Regions from separate parts of the Homo sapiens genome. Here all the other regions are reported to be linked to region 1. The links are microRNA targets in miRTarBase. Many come from high-throughput screens and were not tested one by one. Region 1 holds a microRNA gene; each other region holds the end of a gene's coding sequence.

Region 1 (6,498 bases):
ATACAGAATCAATTAGATGAAGAGAGGAGAGAGATAAAGAGCAGAAGAGTGGGGAGAGGAAAAGTGGGAGAGGGAGAGGGGAGGAGTTGGGGGAGAGGAAAATGGAGAGAGAGATATTTATTCTAAGGGATTGGCTCACATAATTATGAGGGCTGCTAAGTCCCAAATCTGCAGGTCTGGCAGGTGGGCTGGAAGTTGTTGATGTTGCAGCCCAGAGTCCAAAAACAGCCTGGAGATAGAATTCCTGCTTCCTGGGGGCCTCAATCGTTTCTCTAAAGGCCTTCCACTGACTGGATGAGGCCCACTCACATGATGGGGGGTAATCTGCTCCACTGATTTAAATGTTAATCTCATTCCAAAATATCTTCTCAGCAGCGTCTAGACTGTTGGTTGACCAGACATTTGGGCACCGCAGCCTAGCTGAGTTGACATAAAGTTAGCCATCACCAGGGCCTGCAGATCCAGTAACAGGCTTGAAAGGAGCAGATACTCTCTGATTGCAACGCATTTGTGCTGCAGTTACCTGGATCCCCTCACCTAGGGTTTACTGTGATTTTTGTCTTAATTTCTCTGTCATAGGAACAGCACAATTATATGTGCACTATATTCTTAACTTTAAAAGACTTAATTTGTTAAATATAAACTTTAGGATTTTAAGGAGACCCAACAAAAATCACTTCTCTCCTCCACCTGACTTCTAGACATCAATTAAGAAATAAGTCTGTACACAAATGCCAAAAGTTTACCTATATTACTAAATAAGCTTATTTTAGAGAATGCAGCATACATTTGCAGACAAGTGATCTTCCTAATACTCTACTGATTTAGGCTAACTTCCCCTCCCAGTCACTGGCAGCTCTTGACCTAAGCCTTCCCTAGCAGGAGGAGGAAGGAGCAACCCTTCTAGACCATGGAGTAGAAGATCACAGAGAAATGCCTGGAGAGCAGAAGAGGAGCTGTCCAAGCCCAGCTCCTTCAAGCTCAACAAGATGGTAAATCATGCCACTTGTTATGCTAATGTGATTTCTTCTTCCACATAAGTGAAGGCATCAAGGATGGGGTTGGGGTATTTCCTCTAAACATAAAATATTCCACTCTTTTTATAATCCTGTTTTGACTGCTTCTCCCCCCCTTCTCTTCTTTCTCCTCCTCATCTTCCTCCTCGTCCTCCTCATCTTCCTCCTCCTCCTCCTTATCTTCCTCTTCCTCCTTGTTCTCCTCTTCCTCCTTGTCTTCCTCCTCCCTCCTTGTCCTTCTCCTCCTGCTCCTTGTCTTCCTCCTCCTCCTTATCTTCCTCCTCCCTCCTTGTCCTTCTCCTCCTGCCCCTTGTCTTCCTCCTCCTCATCTTTCTCCTCCTCCTTATCTTCCTCCTCCTGCTTATCTTCTTCCTCCTCCTCCTCATCTTCCTCCTCCTCCTCTTCCTCCTCTTCCTTCTCTTCCTCCTCATCTTCCTCCTCCTCCTTGTCTTCCTTCTCCCTCCTTGTCCTTCTCCTCCTGCTCCTTGTCTTCCTCCTCCTCCTCCTCCTCGTCTTCTTCCTCCTCCTTCTCCTTGTCTTCTTCCTCCTCCTCATCTTCCTCCTCCTCCTTGTCTTCTTCCTCCTCCTTCTCCTTGTCTTCCTCCTCATCCTCCTTGTCTTCCTCCTCCTCCTCATCTTCTTCCTTCTCCTCCTCATCTTCCTCCTCCTCTTCTTCCTCCTCCTCTTCCTCCTCCTCCTCTTCCTCCTCCTCCTCTTCCTCCTCTTCCTCCTCCTCTTCCTCCTCCTCTTCCTTCTCCTCATATTGCTCCTCCTCCTCCTTGTCTTCCTCCTCCTCCTCCCTTATGAGAAGCTTCAGAAACAGAAATGTGCAGGGCCTCCCTGGCCAAGCTAAATGTTCTGGGCAGTCCAAGAGCAAGAGTGAAGCATGGAAGTGGTGCATTGTCCCAAGCTTGGTGTTAACCTGAGCCATGTGGTGGAACATCAGAGAAATGAAATGACTGACCTTGAAGCCCAGAGGGGGACGAGAGACTGGAGAGACCAGCATTCTCTGTGAGATTGAACAATAAAGTTAATAGGTGTGAGGAAGCGGGAGGGAAGGGGAGAAATTAGCTTCACTGAGCATCAGCTGTGTTGCTAGGTGCTTTCAGTCATATGCAGCCCACCTTACAATCCTGCAAAATACTATGTCACAGACAAAGAATATAAGGCTCAGAAATATAATTTACCTGAGGTCACACAGCCAGCAAGTGGCAGAGCCAACTTTTAAACCCAGATCTCTGCTTCTAAAACTTGCCCCCATTTCCCCATTAGATTAGCTGCTTCCAGGGACATAAGAAAGGTAGAAAATGGAAGGTTACAGAGCAAAGGGGATTATAATGCTTAAGTTTTCAGAGCTGGAGCACTTCCCACTGAAGACAAAGTCAAGGATGTGGTCATGGGGGTGGGTTGCTGAACTGGATGGAAGTCAAGATCTTTGGAGTAGAGAAGGGCAAGAACATATAGGGCTCATGTTGGATGGGCCATCAGCATCGACTGTGATGGTTTACTAGGCGGGGCTGAATAGAGGTGAGTATGCATGCAAGGTAGAAACCCCTGAACAGATGCTGTGGGGAGAACTAGAGATTGGAGGACATGGAATGATGGGCACAGACCCCACAGCTTGGTGATGGTAGCCATGGAACTATTGTAAATGAACAATCCCAAAGCGACTGCAGAATTCTGAGTTTTTCCTCTTTTTCCTGATTTTCTCAGCAAAGCATATGTTGCCATTTCACTGTCATCTTCTTACACTTCACTGCAGAAGAACTACATAATTTGAAAGATTATTTAAATTATTTTTCTGGTAAAGAAAAAAACTGTTTCTAACTTTTTGTATCATAAGGGATTTTTTTCAAGTATGGTTTTAAGAATTAGACAATTCTACTCTTAAGAGATGGGAACTGAGACCTTAATTCTCATAATTTGTAGTGACGAAGCTCTGTATGAGCCTTTATTACACATGGTAAAGACTTTCATGAATATGCCCAGGTGTCAGAAGTTGTTACTAGACTAACAAAGTAACTAGTAGTTGTAGTTACTTACACAGTAACTAGACAGTGCATGATTTATGCTCTAATGTTAAAAATAGTATTGTATCATGTGTTCAATAGATTCTGGCTAGGTCCCACATTGTATCTCTTACAGGGACTAATTTTACACAAAAACTGATTTTTTAAAAATGCTTCCATGTCTAACAGTCCTGATGGTAAACTCCAAATCATGGCTGGTTTGTTTGACACACCAGGAGTGCTAATTTATTTATTATATACACCAAGAGGAATATAAAGTTCGGTGGTTCGAATTAGATAATTTAGTGTCCCAAGATTGTTTATTTGATTGCCTTAGGCAGGACTTAAGGGTAACTAGAAAATTTGTACAGCTTACTCTGTGTATGTACAGTATGGAGGTCTGTTGCTTCCACCCTCTCCTTTTGCACACCTTTTGAGCAGTTTAGTACGTATTGCAATTTCTGCAGGAAGGTGGCCATGGTGAAGGCCTTGGGGAAATCCCTGCACCTTGAAAAGAATTTGGGATGTGGCTCTGTAGTAAGATGGACTTGCGGTTCAATCCCAGCTCAGGGCCTTTTTAAATTATTAGTAGTAGTAGTAGTCGGGAGACCTTGAGCAACATGCTTTATCTTGTATCTCAGTAACCCTTCCTGAAAGGATGAAATTATCCTTAAAAGATGAGTAAAGGAGATTGAAAATAATTTAGTTATTTAAAGTATTTTCAGGCCCTGCATGGTGGCACATGCCTGTAATCCCAACGCTTTGGTAGGCCAAGGCAGGAGGACTGCTTGGAGCCAGGAGTTTGAGACCAGCCTGGACAACAAGGTGAGACCCTGTCTCTATGGAAAAAATAATAATAATTAGCTGGTGTAGTGGTATGTACTTGTAGTTTCAGCTGCATGGGAGGCTGAGGCAGGAGGATGGCTTGAGGCCAGGAGTTCAAGCTATAATTGCACCACTGCACTCCAGCCTGAGCAACAGAGCAAGACCCTGACTCAATTGAAAAAAAAATTCAGTGATTTTCATATACATTATCTAATCTGAACCACTGATCTTCATATTCTCCTTAGTGTATATAATAAGTAATAAGCATTCCTGGTGTGTCAAACAAGCAGCAATGATTTGGGGTTCACCATCAGGACTATTAGGCATGGAAACCTTTAGAAAAAAATTATTAGTTTTTATTTAAAATTAGTCCCTGTAAGAGATACCATGTAGGACCTAGCCAGAATCTCTTGAACACAAGATAAAATGTGATACTTCATGTGTATAATACATCCAGATTTCTGGAGTTAGAAATACCAAAAATGCATATAGGCAGTTTTCATCCATAATGGAACGTAAACAATAGCCTAAATAAGTGAATATTTGCAGTTGCATCATGTAACCTTTTAACATTGCTGTGCAAATAGCTATTCATTTTTCAGCAGGTAAAACTGTACCACACAAGCAGAAAAGAAGGCCTGGTTAAGTTTATATTTTCTAAGAGAAGCCTTGCTAAAACAAAACAACCATACGTTTTAAGGTATCGCTTGATCAGCGACCTTTCTAAATAGATAGGGCAATATAAGTCACAATTTGCTTAGGATGCTTTGGGCCACTAATAATAACAGACTCAGAAATGGTCTAATACATTTCTAATAAATGAGCAAAATGCATTCACAGCCGGGCACGGTGGCTCATGCCTGTAATCCCAGCATTTTGGGTAGCCAAGGCAGGCAGATCATTTGAGATCAGGAGTTTGAGACCAGCTTGGCCAACACGGTGAAACCCCATCTCTACTAAAGTGAAAAAAAAAAAATGAGCCAGGTGTGGTGCCATGTGCCTGTAACCCCAGCTACTCAGGAAGCTGAGGCAGGAGAACTGCTTGAACCCAGGAGGCAGAGGTTGCAGTGAGCTGAGATCATGCCACTGCACTCCAGCCTGGGCGACACAGTAAGACTGTCTCAAAAATAAAATAAATAAAATAAAATAAAATAACGCATTCACTTATGAAGTACAGAGATAGGGCTGTTCCAGGATTCACTAATTTGGCAACTTAACAACAGAAGCATTACCTCCTTTCAGTTCTGCCTTCTCAGATCGACTCCCCTTGTGCTCACAAGGTGGCTGCCAATAATCTGGGTATCACATGTAGTTATGACTTCATGAAGTCAGAGAAGATGCTGTTTCTTCCCATGCATCCCTTTATCAGCAGACACATATAATAGTAGTCTCCCAGTAAACTTCCCTTTCTCTCTCACTGGCCAGAATTGCCTTGTGTGCTCATTTCTGGCAGGGGATGGAATCACCATGCTGTGCTTATACCAGTCAAGGTTGACCCACTGGGGCTAGGGAGGGGTCTAACCTTCCTTGATGCACACAGCCACCAGATATCTGAATAAAAATGGGGTTCTGTTAGCAAGAAAGAAAGGAGAGTGGCCAACGGCTAGGCCATTGATAGTAACTACCACAGTAGCCAAGATACTTTGAAAGCATTGTTGTGATGTCTTTGATAACCCTTTTCAAGTTTATTTAAAGTCTGAAAGACTTTATATAACTGGCTTTACACTGAGAATTTCAGATAGCCTGGCCCACCACTGAGACCTATGCCCCTTTGCTCCAGTTACTTAATTTCTTGAATTCTGTTTCCATAAAATGTGGAAAGTCATAAAATCCCATAGAGGTTTCATGAGGATGAAACAAGACCATTCGTGGAAAGTGCTTAACTGAATGGCTTGCATATAATAAATGCTCAGTTAATGTTGTTATTCATTCTTCACTCTTTCTAAATGTCCTCCTGTGGCCAGTGGCCAACCCAAGGTCCAAGACTGAAAATCTGAGCCACAGGCCCGAGTCTTGTCTCTCTGTTGCCCTCACTCACATTCACGTTACCATCCTGTCCTCCCCCAGGTCTTATCCCACAGCCACAGGTCTAGACAGAGCCTTTAATTATGAGGTCGCCTCATGCAGGTATCTCCCTTCATATCCTCCATTCCCCCTACACATATGCCTAGGAGAGGGATCCTTAGAGAGTATTTATCCCTGCTCTGCTGATTGTTTGCAGTTAGATCAGTGGGTTTCCTCCACTCTTCCTGGGAGCCTAGGGATCTGAGTTCATGCTTAAGTAAGCCAAGCCGCATGGACCTCTTCCATATTTCATCCAAAGCAACACACTGCTCTATACTGTATATATTAGGGCTTTGCATTCGATTCTTGTGAAAAAGGAGTTCTGCTCCTTGTGGAAAGTGTGAAAAGCAATGGATTGGATGATGTCTCCAGTGGGGTATCAGGAACCTTCCAGAACCTCTCTCTGCTTTGCAAACTGTCTCCTATCTCATGCAAACTCCAAATGGCCTGAAGTCCCTCCCAAGTTGGCGCCTCCTTCTCTGTACTGTGCTTCTTTGACAGCCCAGCCTCCAAGAAATGCTTTCTGGGCCCCTGATGACAGGTGTCACACACACCAGCTACCTTGTTTCTAATGTCAACTGCTC
Region 2 (5,433 bases), not on the chromosome of region 1:
CTTATACAAGTGAGCTCCTCACATCCTCAGGATAAGGAAAAGATTGGAGCACTAAGTGGTCAATTCTAGGCTGGATGCAGTGGCTCAGGCCTGTAAGGGAGTCCGAGTTAGGAGGATCATCTGAGGGCAGGAGTTAGAGATGAGCCTGGGTAACATAGCAAGAATCTGTCTGTACCAAAAAATAATATTAAAAAACTTTTTTTTGAGACAGACTCTCACTCTGTCACCCAGGCTGGAGTGCAGTGGCATGATCTTGGCTCACTGCAACCTCTGCCTCCTGGGTTCAAGCAATTCTCCTGCCTCAGTCTCCTTAGTAGCTGGGATTACAGGCACGCGCCACCATGCCTGGCTAATTTTCATATTTTTAGTAGAGACGGGGTTTCACCATGTTGGTCAGGCTGGTCTCAAACTCCTGACCTTGTGATCCGCCTGCCTTGGCCTCCCAAAGTGCTGGGATTACAGGCGTGAGCCACCGCACCCGGCCAGAGAATACTTTTTAAAAATTAGCCAGGCATGGTAGCTCACGCCTGTAGTCCCAACTGCTTGGGAGGCTGAGGTGAGAGAATCGCTTGAGCCTGGGAGGTCTAGGCTACAGTGAGCTAGGATCACGCTACTGCACTCCAGCCTGGGCAACAGACCGAAACCATCTCAGAAACAAAAAAAAGTAGTCAGTTCTATAAAAAATAAAGAGGCATATGGAATAGAGGTATGACCAATACAGGGAAAAGTAAATGAAATGCAAGGACACTGCAGTTTAAACCTCATCTGACACTGGTTGTGTGGTCTTGAGCAACCCCAACATCTTTTCTCTTTTGTTCTGAGGATCTGACGTGGCTCCATCTGTGTCCTTCTAAAGTCATGAATTAAATTTCAGTGCACAATAAGCAAGACACTCAAATTCTTTATCATCCCAGGGCCCAAAATCTCAGGAAGTGCTTCCACTTTGGTACTTTTTTTTTTTTTTTTTTTTTTTTTTTTTTTTTTTTTAAGAGAGAGGGTCTCACTCTCTGATACGCAGGCTAGAGTGCAGTGGCATGATGCTAGCTCACTGCAGCTCCCAACACCTGGGCTCAAGCGATCCTTCCACCTCAGGCTCAGCATCCAGAATAGCTAGGACTACAGGCATGCACCACCATACCTGGTTTATTTATTTATTTATTTATTTATTTATTTATTTTTTTTAGACAAGGTCTTGTTATGTTCCACAGGATGCTCTTGAACTCCTGGCCTGAATCAATCCTCCCACCTCAGACTCCTGAGTAGTTGGGATTACAGGTGCAAGCCACCATGCCTGGCCCAGTTTGGGATTTGTAAACTGCAAATGCCCTCCTGCTAGGCCAGCATTACTCTTCAGTTCCTGCTATTTCATAGGTATTCCAGTTGACACAGGTGTGTTTCTGCAGTTGCATGCATTTTCCTCCTGTTGACCCTGACATCAATATAATTGAAAGCGTTTAGTTAAATTGTGATAGGACTTTTAAATCTCTAATTGAAAAATATTGTTTCTTATGGGATCTTCTGTTTAATACAATCTTAGGGAAAGTTTCAGAACTGTTGCTCCTGGCAGACACTTCGTGGACACGCATACTCACCATGCCTCCTTCCTGCTGACAACTGGGGACTTAAGTCACAACCTGCAGACTAGCACAGAGAAATGTCTGACTCTTCAGTTGAGTTCAACAAATGCTTATTGAGCACCTCCTAAGTACCAGGCACTGTTGATACAAAGGTAAAGAAATTTCACATTGTTCCTTCCCTAGCAAAGCTGACAAAGGGAAAGATGTGTGAACAAACCATTATAATGTAACATAATAAAATGATGAAAAATACAAGACAGAATAAAAAATACATGAGGTTAGAGACAGCTTTGAGATATTGCCTGAGCACACTCGTAAGTGAAAAATGGGAGTTTTGCAGGCAAGCAGAAGCAGGGAAAAGGAACTGAGGCAATAGGAACACTATGTGCGGAAGTGCCAAAATAGAGTCCAGAGGTGATATTCCAGAATCACAGGAATTTGAACTATGGAATAGAACATGCCAGGCAAGGAATGGCAGCTAAGGATGGCAATTCAGGCATGGGTCAGATGAGGGGCCTCACCTGCCTCTTTAAAGGACTAGTGCTTTATTCCGAAAACAATAAGCAGCCAGTTATGCTTATAAAGATCAAGAAGAAATGTGAAAGATGGCCTAGTGGGGCAAGAAACTGGAAGACTGGTAGATAAATTTTAAAATAGGAAGTCCAGGCACAGTGGCTTATGCCTATAATCCCAGCACTTTGGGTGGCTGAGGCAGGCAGATTGCTTGAGCCCAGGAGTCCGAGACCAGCCTGAGCAACATGGTGAAACCCATCACTACAAAAAAATATAAAAATTAGCCAAGGATAGTGGCACATGCCTGTAGTCCCAGCTATTTGGGAGGCTGAAATGGGAGGATCGCTTGAGCCTGGGAGGTGGGGGTTTGCAGTAAGCAGAGACCATGCCATTGCATTCCAGCCTGGACAACAGAGTGAGATCCTGTCTCAAAAAAAAAAAATTAAAATTAAAAATAAAATAGTCTAGAAAATAAATTAGGGAGTAGGGGACTGGACTACAATAACTGCAGTGGAGATGGCTTCCAGAGATAGGAGATAACTTCAACAGGACATAGTGGTTGAATGGATATGAAGATTGAATAAGAGGGAAAACTGAGGGTGAGGGCAATGACTAGGTTTGGGGCCATGCTGGAGAGACTAGGTACATCATGGGCCAGCAACTGAGAGAAAATCGGGAGCACATAAGTCCAAGTGTAAGAATATGGGGTCAGGGTAGTGGAAAGAACAGTTATTTAACTGTTTCCCCAGAAGGTAAAAACATGCCATATTTTCTCAGCCTGAGAAAAATTCAGGATCAAGTCTGTTTCACTTGAGAAAATCTTTCCCACAAGAACTTATGGATATCATTTTTTTTTTTTTTTCTAGAAAAAGTCTCACTCTGTCTCCCAGGCTGGAGTGCACAGGCACAATCTCGGCTGGCTGCAGCCTCCACCTCCCAGGTTCAAGTGATTCTTGTGCCTCAGCCTCCTGAGATATCTTTAAAGTTTTCTTGTTTCTTTCTTAAGAAAACTCTCCCTATTCTAATCTCCACTCATAATTCTCAAGATGGTGTACAAATATTGCTATAAATAACTATTCATCAGGAAGTTCCAAGAAAGGTTCTGTTGGGCAATAGTTGATATAACTCATGAAATAAATATTTACTGAACATGTATTATGTGCCAGTAATTAATTATGCAGTTTTTATCTAGGAGGTATAAATACATTTTTGCTTTTGGTAAAATAATATTTTCACAAACATATTTAGAAAGGTTTTACAGCATTATTTTTACCCATAGTGTATTAATTTTCTCAATTATGACTTCACTGGTGGTAGGTTTTAAGAACATAATCTTCATAGAAAGTGAAAAAGATATATATTTATACCATACTCCCATTAATGGTAATTCATGGCCCAAACCTATCCCTACAAGGCAACTGCTCTAGAAAAAAAAAAAAAAAACAAAAACAAAAAAAAAAAACGATGAGTTCCAAATAACCAAGCATTCCAGAATCAACTTAGTGTTTTTAATAGCCATACTTTAAAAATGCTATAAGCTTCACAGCTTAGAAATTATTTTAAATACCAATCAAAGGCTATCCTCAATCTTCTGAAGCTCAATTTCTGGGTAGCAGTTAAGAACATGAAAGGAATTTGGGAAATAAAGGGAAAACTATGTCATTTCTCTCAAAAGAATAAAACACTGTCACAGTCAGTAGCAAAATGTGCTATCCTGATTTTCAGGGATTTGAAAAAGATTCTTTTAGAAGTCTTTCCAAAGTCATTCCACGACAAATGTCAACTTTCTTAAGAGCCCCAATGTCCAACCAAGTGAAAATTCTTTCTTCTTTCATTACTAATGCTTTCTCCTAAAGACCAACAAACTAAGTACCATTTTGTTAGGACATTGTTAGTCCTAGTGTGTCTCTCTCCTCTGGTCTCTGTACACCAACAGCCTAGGCAAACTTACAATAGACAGGTGTACACCTTAGTACAGGCAGGGTTATGTAGGTGACTTGCTCAGTCACATGCAGGCTTCCTGTTCTGAGTCTTATCACTCTAGCAGACCATTTCTTTCCTGGGTAACCATATTTCCTCTGAGATAGATATTGAGTCTTCCTGGTTCTCTGAACAGGTATGACTGCCTCCCCATAAACCAGTATCATGAATTCTAACTTGGTCTCCTATTTCATTCTTAGCTCTGAGTCACCTCAAAGCTTGGAAGAATCAGGAAAGACCTTCACCCTGATAATGAAAGAAAGCCTTCTTTACTGGCAGATCTATAGAGGTCAGCCCAGTTGTTGCTTTATATCTCATTTTTTTAATGAATGGATATGGATTTTTTTTTTTTTTTTTTTTGGCTCTTACTTGTTTCTGTCTCCTTTTCACAGGACCACTTCCACAGGTTGGGAGCCTCCCCCATGGTAGCATGGTCAGGGCTGCCTCAAATCTGGAGGCTAGACTTAGCACTACATCAGAGCTGTGCCACTTCACACTGACAGGCAGTGTTTAAGAAAAACATCTCAACCTGCCAGCCAACGAAAATGGGTGACAAGTCAGAATGTGGGGCAGGATGTAGTAAAGTGAACAGAAGTGCTAACAAATGCCTCCTCAAGCTGTAAGAGTCACATGGGGAGACAGTGGCAATGTGTAGGCTTTATCTGAAAAGCAGGAATTTCTTTCTACCCTGTATTCCCAGATGCCCACCTCAAGTAGGCTCTGCATTCCCTAAGCTCCCACCTCCATTTCTGGAAACATTCCTCTCAGAGTACAGTAGCCAAGGCTCCTTCATCCTTCCCTCCAGGAACTCTACCTGCCCCTCTACTCCCAGTCAGATTCGTAGTCATCCTCGCTAGAGAAACTGTCATAACCTAAATGGCAGCATTAGTCACCACTGTGAAGTTTCTGATGTCTGAAAAGGACTGAACTATGTCTGAAGAACTTTCCACACTCAATACACTCATAAGGCTTCTCACCAGTGTGAATTCTGTAATGTTCACTAAGGTGTGCATACTTGCGGAAGGTTTTCTCACACTCACTACATTTATAGAGCTTCTCACCAGTGTGAGTTCTATGATGTTCAGTAAGAGATGAGCTATGAGCAAAGGCTTTCCCACATTCTTTACATTTATAGGGCTTCTCTCCAGTATGAATTCTCATATGCTGAGTGAGGCAGGTGTTCTGATTAAAGCCCTTTCCACATTCATTGCATTTATAGGGTTTTTCTCCAGTGTGACTTCTCTGGTGCCGAATAAGGCAAATGCTCTGAATGAAGGCTTTACCACATTCACTGCATTTGTAGGGTCTCTCCCCTGTATGTATTCTCTGATGTTTAGTGAGTGGGGTGCTCTGAGTAAACGCT
Region 3 (4,000 bases), not on the chromosome of region 1:
CAATCCAAGCTCACGGAGCACTTGCGCGTGCACAGCGGGGAGAGACCCTTCCAGTGCCCAGAGTGCAACAGGAGCTTCCGCCTGAAGGGGCAGCTGCTCAGCCATCAGCGCCTGCACACGGGAGAGAGGCCCTTCCAGTGTCCGGAGTGCGACAAGCGCTATCGCGTGAAGGCCGACATGAAGGCCCACCAGCTGCTGCACAGCGGGGAGATGCCTTTCTCCTGTGAGTGCGGCAAGGGCTTTGTGAAACACTCAAAGCTCATCGAGCACATCAGAACGCACACGGGAGAGAAGCCTTTTCAGTGTCCCAAGTGTGACAAGAGTTTCCGCCTGAAGGCGCAGCTGCTCAGCCATCAGGGCCTGCACACAGGGGAGAGGCCTTTTCACTGCCCTGAGTGTGACAAGAACTTCCGGGAAAGGGGACACATGCTGAGGCACCAGCGCATCCACAGGCCCGAGAGGCCCTTTGCCTGTGGCGATTGTGGGAAGGGCTTCATTTACAAGTCTAAGCTTGCGGAGCACATCAGAGTACACACAAAATCCTGTCCTGCTCCAAATGAACTGGACATTAAGAAAAGGCTCAGCCAACTGTTTGCAATGATAGAGGCCGATTGGAGTTGAGGCAGAGTGGGACATCCAAAGCGTTGAGCAGGATTGGTATTGCCCAGGAATCCACAGCAACAGTAGCCAGACCCGCTGGTAGACGGGTTTTAGGAGCAGGTATCCTTCTTTGAGCAAGAGTGTCATGCAAGTTAGGAATATGAAGAACCACAAAGGATTTTCTCTTCAGAAGCATCACCAATTATATTTCTTTCTTTTTTTTTTTTTTTTCCAAGATGGAGTTTTGCTCTGTCACCCAGGCTGGAGTGCAGTGGCGTGATCCCAGCTATATTGGAAAAGACAGCATTATAAAACAAGGACATAATTTTATGAAAAAGGAGGCATCTGCAAACGAAAACAATTTCTACGAGGTTATATGTGATTGTTAACATTTTTAAGAAAAGGTGCACACAGAAATCCAGATAAGATGTGATTACCTTTGTGCATTTGTATAAAAATATATGTGTGTAATTATAAGGAAGTTCTGACATTTTAAAAAGTAATTGTTATAAAAGTAAATTTAGGCCAGGCACAGTGGTTCATGCCTGTAATCCCAGCACTTGGGAGGCCGTGGCAGGAGGATCACGAGCCAAGGAGTTTGAGACCAGCTTGGGCAACATGGCAAAACCCTGTCTCTACTAAAAATACAAAAATTAGCCAGGCATGGTGGTACACACCAGTAGTCCCAGCTACTCCTGAAGCTGAGGTGGGAGGATCGCCTGAGCCCAGGGAGGTCAAGGCTGCAGTGAGCAATGATGGTGCCACTGCACTCCAGTATGGATGACATAGTATGACACTGTCTCAAAAAAAAAAAAAAAAAAATTTGGGCCAGGGGTGGTGGCTCACGCCTGTAATCCCAGCACTTTGGGAGGCTGAGGCGGGTGGATCACAAGGTCAGGAGATCGAGACCATCCTGGCAAACACAGTGAAACCCTGTCTCTACTAAAAATACAAAAAAAAAAAAAAAATTAGCCGGGTGTGGTGGCAGGCACCTGTAGTCCCAGGAGGCTGAGGCAGGAGAATGGTGTGAGCCCAGGAGGCGGAGCTTGCAGTGAGCCAAGATCAAGCCACTGCACTCCAGCCTGGGTGACAGAGCGAGACTCCGTCTCAAAAAAAAAAAAAAAACAAATTTAGTATCTCCCAAAGGAAGCTTGGCAAGTCCTTTTCATTCTCTTTAGAATTTATAGAATATAGCCTGGCGTGGTGGCTCATACCTATAATCCCATTACTTTGGGAGGTCAAGGCAGGAGGATCACTTGAGGTCAGGAGTTCAAGACCAGACTGGCCAACATGGTGAAACACCATCTCTACCAAAAAGTACAAAAATTAGCCGGGCATGGTGGCATGCACCTGTAGTCTTGGCTACGCCGGAGGCTGAGGCAGGAGAATCGCTTGAACCCCAGAGGTGGAGGTTGCATTGAGCTGGGATTGCACCACTGCATTCCAACTTGGGAGACAGAGCAAGACTCCATCTCAAAAAAATTATAGAATATATAATTAATATATAAAGATACAGAATAATATATAATTATAAATTCCTTTTTTTTTTTCTTTGAGATGGAGTCTTGCTCTGTCGCCCAGGCTGGGGTGCAGTGGCATGATCTCGGCTCACCGCAAGCTCCACCTTCCGGGTTCATGCCATTCTCCTGCCTCAGGCTCCCAAGTAGCTGGGACCACAGGCGCCCGCCACCACGCCCAGCTAATTTTTTGTATTTTTAGTAGAGACAGAGTTTCACCGTGTTAGCCAGGATGGTCTCGATCTCTTGACCTCGTGATCCGCCCGCCTCAGCCTCCCAAAGTGCTGGGATTACAGGCATGAGCCACGGTGCCGGCCTTTCTTTTCTTTTTTTTTTTTTTTTTGGAGTCTCTGTCAGCCAGCCTGGAGTACAGTGCCATGATCTTAGCTCGCTGTATCCTCCACCTCCCAAGCTCAAGTGATCCTTCTTTCTCAACCTCCTGAGTAGCTGGGACTAAAGGCGCACGCCATCACGTGCCACCATGCCTATTTTTGTATTTTTAGTAGAGACTAAAAATACAAAAAATATAAAATGTGGGCCAGGCTGGTCTTGAACTCCTGACCTCAGGTGATCTACCCACCTCAGCCTCCCAAAGTGCTGGGATTATAGGTGTGAGCCACCGTGCCCGGCCTATACTTCGCCATTTGTCTCTTAACACGGGTGCCCAAGAAGCTGCTGCTTGGGGGGCTGTATTCAATTAACACTTTTAATGTTAACAGGTGTGGACCATCAAGAGATTGTCTCTCCCTGGCTGCCGAATTCTCATTCTTAGAGAGGCAATTTGTTAATTGCTGAACCATCACCTGACATTTCTAGTGGGTCGGGAGAGAGCCCTCTGCTGCCCTGTTGATGCCTAACTACCTGTAACAATCTGATTATTGTAAGTTTTCCTGTATCCAGTATCACCTCCAATATTTATCAAGGAGTTGTGTGAAATACCACCTCACAACCAGATGAAGAATTTTATCACCACCTCCTCCAATTCCTCATGAGGGAGAAGTAGGAATTGCTCTGAGCCTAAGGTAGAAACCGTTCCTGAAATGTTGAAAACCGTCATTGTGAGTAGGTGAGTGGAGTGGTGGAGTAGTGAATCACCTGTACAATGGCACTGTCAAAAGACAAAATTACAACACATTTAGTTTAAAAATCTTAATTGGCTTATTTGGTATTCTAGAATTGAGCAACACTTCATCCCATGAAACAGAATAAGTGGCCCGGCGTGGTGGCTCACGCCTGTAATCCCAGCACTCTGAGAGGCCGAGGCGGGCAGATCACCTGAGGTCAGAAGTTCAAGACCAGCCTGGCCATGGTGAAACCCTGTCTGTACTAAAAATACAAAAAATTAGGTGGGTGTGGCAATGCGAACCTGTAATTCCAGCTACTCGGGAGGCTGAGGCGGGAGAATCGCTTGAACCCGGGAGGCGGAGGTTGCAGTGAGCCGAGATCGTGCCATTGCACTCCAGCCTGGGCAACGAGCGAAACTCGGTCTCAAAAACAAAAACAGAAAAACAGAATAAGTGTTTGGATGAGCCAGCCAAGGCGGGTTTTTTTTTTTTTTTTTAAGAAGGAGTCTCCCTCTGTCGCCCAGGCTGGAGAGCAGTGGCGCTATCTTGGCTCACTGCAACCTCCACCTCCTGGGTTCAAGCAATTCTGCCTCAGCCTCCCAAGTAGCTGGGATTACAGGTATGCGCCACCATGCCTGGCTAATTTTTTGTATTTTTAGTAGAGACGGGGGTTTCACCAGGATGGCCAGGCTGGTCTCGAACTCCTGATCTCGTGATCTGCCCACCTTGGCCTCCCAAAGTGCTGGGATTATAGGTGTGAGCCACTGCACCCGGCCCGCGGTTGGTTTTATGGACAGAAAAAGCTTGGGAAAAGCAGAA
Region 4 (6,498 bases), not on the chromosome of region 1:
CTCACGCCTGTTATCTCAGCACTTTAGGAGGCCGAGGCAGGTGGATCACCTGAGGTCAGGAGTTCGAGAGCAGCCTGGCCAACATGGTAAAATCCTGTCTCTACTAAAAATTAAAAAATTAGTCAGGCGTGGTGGCACGCACTCAAACCCAGGAGGCAGAGATTCAGTGAGCTGAGGTCATGCCACTGCACTGCAGCCTGGACAACAGAGCAAGACTCTGTCTCAAAAAAAAAAAAAAGTTAGCTGCACATGGTGGTGCACACCTATAGTCCCAGCTACTTGGGAAGCTGAGGTGGGAGGACTGCTTGAAGTTGCAGTGAGGCTATGATAGTGCCACCGCACTCCAGCCTGAGTGACAGAGGGAGACCTTGTCTCAAATAAAAAGTCTCATGGTTGTGTCTCAGAAAATCAGGTGTTCACTGTGCTGTTGGCTGATGTTTTCTCAGCATCCACTTTGTCAAGCTCTCAATTACATTTACACTAGATATTACCCTGGTTAGGACCTGGTCACTGCCTTTAAGAACCTGTATGATTGGGAGGCCGAGGCGGGTGGATCATGAGGTCAGGAGATCGAGACCATCCTGGCTAACACGGTGAAACCCCGTCTCTACTAAAAATACAAAAAAATTAGCCGGGTGTGGTGGCAGGCGCCTGTAGTCCCAGCTACTCGGGAGGCTGAGTCAGGAGAACGGCATGAACCCGGGAGGCGGAGCTTGCAGTGAGCCGAGATCAAGCCACTGCACTCCAGCCTGGGCGACGGAGCCAGAGTCTGTCTCAAAAAAAAAAACAACCTGTATGAAATATGATTTAACATATAGTTAATTTCATTAAAATAACCATGGATTTTATTAGTTGAAAAAATTGGTCTATATGTAAGTCTCTGTGTCTCGACTACATAATACTCTTAAGAATTTCCTTTTTAGTTAATATTAGTTTGCTACAATTTGAGTCTTAATGATGTTCCATACTATGTTTTGTGTGTTATTTAATTCTCAGAATAACCTTTTAAAGTCAGTACCATTGTCCCCATTTTACAGATGAAAAAGGCTTAAAGAGGTTAAGCTTGTCTGAGATCACTTGAAAGTAAGCATGTCTTGAAGACGTGCTAGATAGCACGAGGGGTTTTGTTTTGTTTTTTTGGAGACAGTTTCGCTCTTATCACCCAGGCTGGAGTCCAGTGGCACAATCTCAGCTCACTGCAACCTCCGCCTTCCGGATTCAAGCAATTCTCATGCCTCATCATCCAGAGTAGCTGGGATTACAGGTACATGCCACCATGCCTGGCTCATTTTTGTATTTTTAGTAGAGACGGAGTTTCACCATGTTGGCCAGGGTGGTCTGGAACTCCTGACCTCAGGTGATCTGCCTGCCTTGGCCTCCCAAAGTGCTGGGATTATAGGCATGAGCCAGTGGGCCTGACCAGCTCAGGTTAATAATAAGCACTTTAATAATTGCTAGATTTGTAAAAAGAAACATTTGGAAGACAACACCTTAAAATCGAGGAAACTGGATTAACTTTTCCTGGGTGAGTTGAGGTGCTGCTGTGCATTTTGCTTTTCTTGGTTCTGTGGTCACCACTTATACTTGCTATTAGTCACCTATATTAATCTGATCAAGTTTACATTGTTTTATCTCCTAACTGTCAAAAACTTTGTTGTTGTTGCCTCCATTGGCAATAATCTAAGCAAAATGCCTTTCCACTGTCCTAAAGTCAATTTTTGTTACTGTACAGAGGAGGAAGAAGGTGGGAAAGGTGAAAAGAGGAAGAGAGAAACAGATGATGAAGGAGAAGATGATTAAGACCCCAGATGACCTGCAGAAACAGAACTGTTCAGTATTGGTTGGACTGCTCATGGATTTTGTAGCTGTTTAAAAAAAAAAAAAAGGTAGCTGTGATACAAACCCCAGGACACCCACCCACCCAAAGAGCCAAAGAATAGTTCCTGTGACATTCCGCCTTCCTTCCATGTAGTCCCTCTTGGTAATCTACCACCAAGCTTGTGGACTTCACCCCAACAAAATTGTAAGCGTTGTTAGGTTTTTGTGTAAGATTCTTGCTGTAGCGTGGATAGCTGTGATTGGTGAGTCAACCGTCTGTGGCTACCAGTTACACTGAGATTGTAACAGCATTTTTACTTTCTGTACAACAAAAAAGCTTTGTAAATAAAATCTTAACATTTTGGGTCTGTTTTTTCATGCTTTGCTTTTTAATTATTATTATTATTTTTTTTACATTAGGACATTTTATGTGACAACTGCCAAAAAAGTATTTTTAAGAATTTAAGCGAAATAAACAGTTACTCTTTGGTAAAGCCTAGTTGTATGCTTACATTTTTAAATTATACTCTCATTGTAAGCTCATGTTAAAACACCAAAGAACTGGTTTATTTGGCATTTTTATATTAGTAGTTGTTGAGGGGAATTGCACAAGTGTGTAGGATCTTTGAGCATTTAGATCAAATCCTCATTGATAACTGGGAGTAAATGAAGCATACTTTAAAAAATAACGTTCAAAATGGAATACTCTGGGGCCCTGAAAACCAGTAAAATGTTAGGTTCAAGTATTATGTGAATTAAGGGAAAGAAGATAGTGTAAAGCAAAAGGCCTTCACCAGAATCCCAAGAGATCTGAATTCTAGTTCTGGCTCTGCCACTGATTTTCTGTGTGACCTTGTGTTGACTCTGGGTCACCACCCAGTCTGGAAAATTGAAGGGGTGTGACCAAATGGCTTCTGAAGTCACTTGTAGCACTGATGTTCTGTGACCCTTGCTGACAGGAAGGTCTGAAGAGAAAAATGGGCTTTCCACTAGTCTGAAGCATGTAGGGTTTGACTGATGGGTGAACACAGTATGGTTTGTTGCCAAGACAGGCGTGAAAAGGGGGAATGACATGTGAAAAGCCTCACCAAGCAGTGGGTAGGCACTGCCTGAGGTCAACTCAGGTTTTCCATAAGATGGAAATTTTCTCTATTCTTACAGATCTTAAAGGGATTTGAGAAAGGAGGATATTCTGTCTGTATTCAGTGATTAACCGTTTAGCGAAAATAGATGTATGACTGCATTATCAATACAGTTTTTTATAGTGGAAGATTTAAGGATTGTTTCAGTAAATTTTAGCTTATAGCTGCTGGAATGAGTGAGGTTTTTGATGCATGTAAATGCAATATGTAAAATTGGAATCTAATTTGAATTTATAACAAGTCACAGTCTCTATGGAGCCCCCAAATACTGTACTTTAAAATCAAAATCTCCCATAGACTTTAAAATGGAGTTTCTTTTTTGCAAAGAAAATCCAAGAAAATTTGATTTCTGATTTTACAGGTATTACACATCATTTTCCCCAACCATAAGGCCATTTTGGCAAACCTTCAATACATTGTAAAATGGTTTCTTCTGTAGCCTAAGTGTGTCCTTAAGGTTTTGCTTATTTGTCAAATATCAAACACAGTAACTTTGAGTGATTATTTTTCCCGGTTTGTTGTTGTTGTTGTTGTTTTTAGTTGTTTTTTAAAGTTTACAGAACTTCCCAGTATCTACCAAGCCTGTAGGATATGCCAGGCTTATTGGCTGGGCAAAAGGGAAGGGAATTGGGTTAAAAAGACAAGCCAGCCCTTGGTGCTCATAGTAACTAGTCAGGAAGAAAAGACATCAACACAAGTAATATTTACTAGGACCTAGGAGCAAGAGGTTTAGGTAAGTTTTAGTGTAGCTCAGAGGCTGGAGAGATGGCACCCAACCTGGAGGGAGGGAAGCTTCTTAGAAAAGAAAGTACTTCAGCTGCACATGCAAGTGTGAATAGCGTCTATAAATAGGAATAGAGAGAGAAGGGAGTATCTTGGTGAGCAGAGGTTAAAGGTAGGAAACTGCTGAGTACAGTTAGATACAAGTAGATTTGACAACACATGAATAGATGATAATACTGGACAAGTCATTTGGGCTCTTGTAGGGGGCCTTGAAGGTCAAAGCCTTTTTGTGCATTATAGTAAAATATTGATGTCACCTGTATGTGGCCAGTGAAGATGCCTTTGACATGGTCCTCAGAGAAGCAAGCTGTTTGGTGATGAGGTCACACAGCAGACTATTTTTGGAGTTGTCTCCCATCTGAAGGAGAACATTGAGAGGGTTTGCTTCCAGCTTCTGCAGTAAGTTTAGTTATAAAATGTCTGAGCTGGGTGGCAGCTATGATGGGCTAGATGACTGGTCCTGACTAGCTGCTCCGAGGTTGGTGGAGGTGTGTTCTACATACACACCTACATGTGTGATACATTGGTATGCCATCTTTTTGAAGCTATTTTCTTTTTTCTTTTTTTTTTTTTTTTGAGATGGGAGTCTTCGCTGTCGCCCAGGCTGACATGTAGTGGCACAATCTTGGCTCACTGCAACCTCCGCCTCCTGGGTTCAAGCAATTCTCCTGTCTCAGCCTCCCGAGTAGCTGGGACTACAGGCGCCCGCCACCACGCCTGGCTAATTTTTGTATTTTTAGTAGAGACGAGGTTTCAACATACTGGTCAGGCTGGTCTTGAACTCTCCTGACCTCAGGTGATCCACCCACCTTGGCCTCCCAAAGTGCCAGAATTACAGGTGTGAGCCACTGTGCCCGGTCCATGGCGCCCTGTTTTCAACCTCTGCTCTTACCTTTAGTTCACTCCTCTTTCAGGAGTCCAGCACCTGAAGAATGATAGTGGCCAGCGTGGAAATGCACAAACCACCTTGTGTAAGATACTGCACCCTACCCGCTCCTGTATCACCACCACCAGGACTCCTGGTACATACTCCAGGACAGATACAGGAGAGTTGAGTCGTCCTGTTCCTGGCATTCCTATCTGGGCTACACTACCTACCCCATCGCCAGAGAAAGGTGAGACAGAAGCACAAAGTGGTTGTACACTATGCTATGACCTTCCAGTTTTCTCCAGCTCTGTTGCATTGTGCTGCCATCAATTTTAATGAGCCTGATGATACCGCCGTGTTGACAGTTTGGAAAGGGAATCAAGTTACTAGTAGACTTAAGCTGCAGCCAGCCAAACAGTTGCTCTGCAGGAAAATCACCAAGATTGCAGTGAGTGTGGAAGTCCTCAGAGCCAATTAGGTCAGCTTAATAATCTCTGATCAAGTGGGTATTTTATAACTTGTCCCAGGGGTGTTGGGAGGGCATATGGAGAAAATACCCTTATTCTATTGCTTTTTGTTGTTGGAGACGGTCTGACTCTGTCACCCAAGCTGGAATACACTGGCACAATCATGGTTCACTGCATGCTCGACCTGGGCACAAACAATCCTCCCACCTCAGCTGAGTAACTGGGACTATAGGTGCGTGCCACCATGCCTGGCTAAATATTTTTGGTAGCGATGAGGTCTCACTATGTTGCACAGGCTGGTTTCAAACCCCTGGGCTCAAGTGATCCTCCTGACTTGAACTCCCAAAGTGCTGGGATTACAGGCATGAGCCACTGCACCTGGCCAGAGTTAACTCTATTTCTGATTAAGGGGACTTGACCCCTGGCCAGGAGGGGCCTGGGGTCTCTGTGTTTAAGACAGCACTCCCCAGCGCCAGCCCTGGCAGAGGAAGAGTGGAGGTATGGGGAGGGAGGCCTCAAACAGAATCTAGAGATCATATTCTAGCCCCAACCTGGCCACTGAATGGTATTTGCTCCCCTCTGTCACTTCCCCTCTGAGCCTCCAGTTCCTCAACTGAAACTCCGAGGCCCAAGCTAAGTGAGCCTGCAGGTTGTTTCAGCTGTACAAATCTGCATGTGGTTCACCGTGAGCCTAACCAGCAATAGGAATACTAATTGTATTTCATGCCGTTACTCCCAGTTACCCTCTGAAGGAGTAGGTAAGGGTTTGGGCTAGTAGAAAATGTCAGAGCTATGTTTAGGCTGATGGAATTGAAAAGGATAGACCAGTAGCATGGGGCCAGATGAGTGCTGCACTTTCAGTGAAGGAGGTGTCTTCCAGAAATTGCCACAGGTATATACATAAGTTGGCCAGACTAGTCAGTCATCTAGTAGCATTACAGATGCAGGTTAGTACATACATCTGCCATTGATGGCCATTTACTGAGAGGAATTTAGTCTTCAACTTCCCTGAAAAATAACCTATAATCCCCTTTTATGGATGTGGAAACTGAAGGATTTAGAGGTGAAGTGCCCTATCCAATGTCATGTAGCTAGTAATGATGACCAGGCTGGGATCCAAACCCAGCTCTGCCCAAACCCAAAGCTGCTGTATGTTGCCATATATCCCTCCCTAGGGCCCTTGCTCCTGGCTCAGTTCTGATGAGAAAGTCAGTGGACTTATTTCTCCCTTAGTCCAAAGCAGGGAGCAAAGTAGACACTAGCTAACAAGACTCATTGGTTCCAAAGGTTCAGGACAGGGCGTGAACAGAACTAGTTGTCAGAGTTGGAACCATAAAATGCTTAGGGACACAGGCAAACAGCGAGCACTGTAAATACAACTGGCTGGGCATGGTGTCTCACGCCTGTGATCCCAGCACTT

The links. Region 1 holds the annotated microRNA hsa-miR-8057 (GUGGCUCUGUAGUAAGAUGGA, at 3,552-3,572, shown strand). A microRNA usually pairs through its seed, bases 2 to 8, with sites in the 3' UTR of a target mRNA and lowers its output. Matches are read on the target gene's strand: a 7mer-m8 pairs with bases 2 to 8, a 7mer-A1 pairs with bases 2 to 7 and ends in A, and an 8mer does both.
Region 2: the mRNA of ZNF502 is a reported target of hsa-miR-8057. Seed matches in the 3' UTR shown: 8mer at 4,429-4,436.
Region 3: the mRNA of ZNF786 is a reported target of hsa-miR-8057. Seed matches in the 3' UTR shown: 7mer-A1 at 1,187-1,193.
Region 4: the mRNA of ANP32B is a reported target of hsa-miR-8057. Seed matches in the 3' UTR shown: 8mer at 1,926-1,933.

What each region holds. Positions count from the first base shown.
Region 1 is chr18:26,588,579-26,595,076 of GRCh38, reverse strand. MIR8057 (microRNA 8057) reads left to right here and starts at 3,542; the gene lies at 3,542-3,610. It also overlaps a transcript of KCTD1 not described here.
Region 2 is chr3:44,721,975-44,727,407 of GRCh38, reverse strand. It overlaps ZNF502 (zinc finger protein 502), which reads right to left. Exons shown (of 3, transcript NM_001134442.3): 3 at 3,577-5,433. The coding sequence ends at 4,956. It overlaps LOC105377056 (a long non-coding RNA gene), which reads left to right. Exons shown (of 3, transcript XR_940788.4): 2 at 1,538-1,729. Among named protein-coding and RNA genes, the nearest start is that of ZNF501, 4.9 kb to the left of the region's middle.
Region 3 is chr7:149,067,044-149,071,043 of GRCh38, reverse strand. It overlaps ZNF786 (zinc finger protein 786), which reads left to right. Exons shown (of 4, transcript NM_152411.4): 4 at 1-1,403. The coding sequence ends at 621. Among named protein-coding and RNA genes, the nearest start is that of ZNF786, 22 kb to the left of the region's middle.
Region 4 is chr9:98,013,632-98,020,129 of GRCh38, forward strand. ANP32B (acidic nuclear phosphoprotein 32 family member B) reads left to right here. Exons shown (of 7, transcript NM_006401.3): 7 at 1,733-2,312. The coding sequence ends at 1,800. Among named protein-coding and RNA genes, the nearest start is that of ANP32B, 34 kb to the left of the region's middle.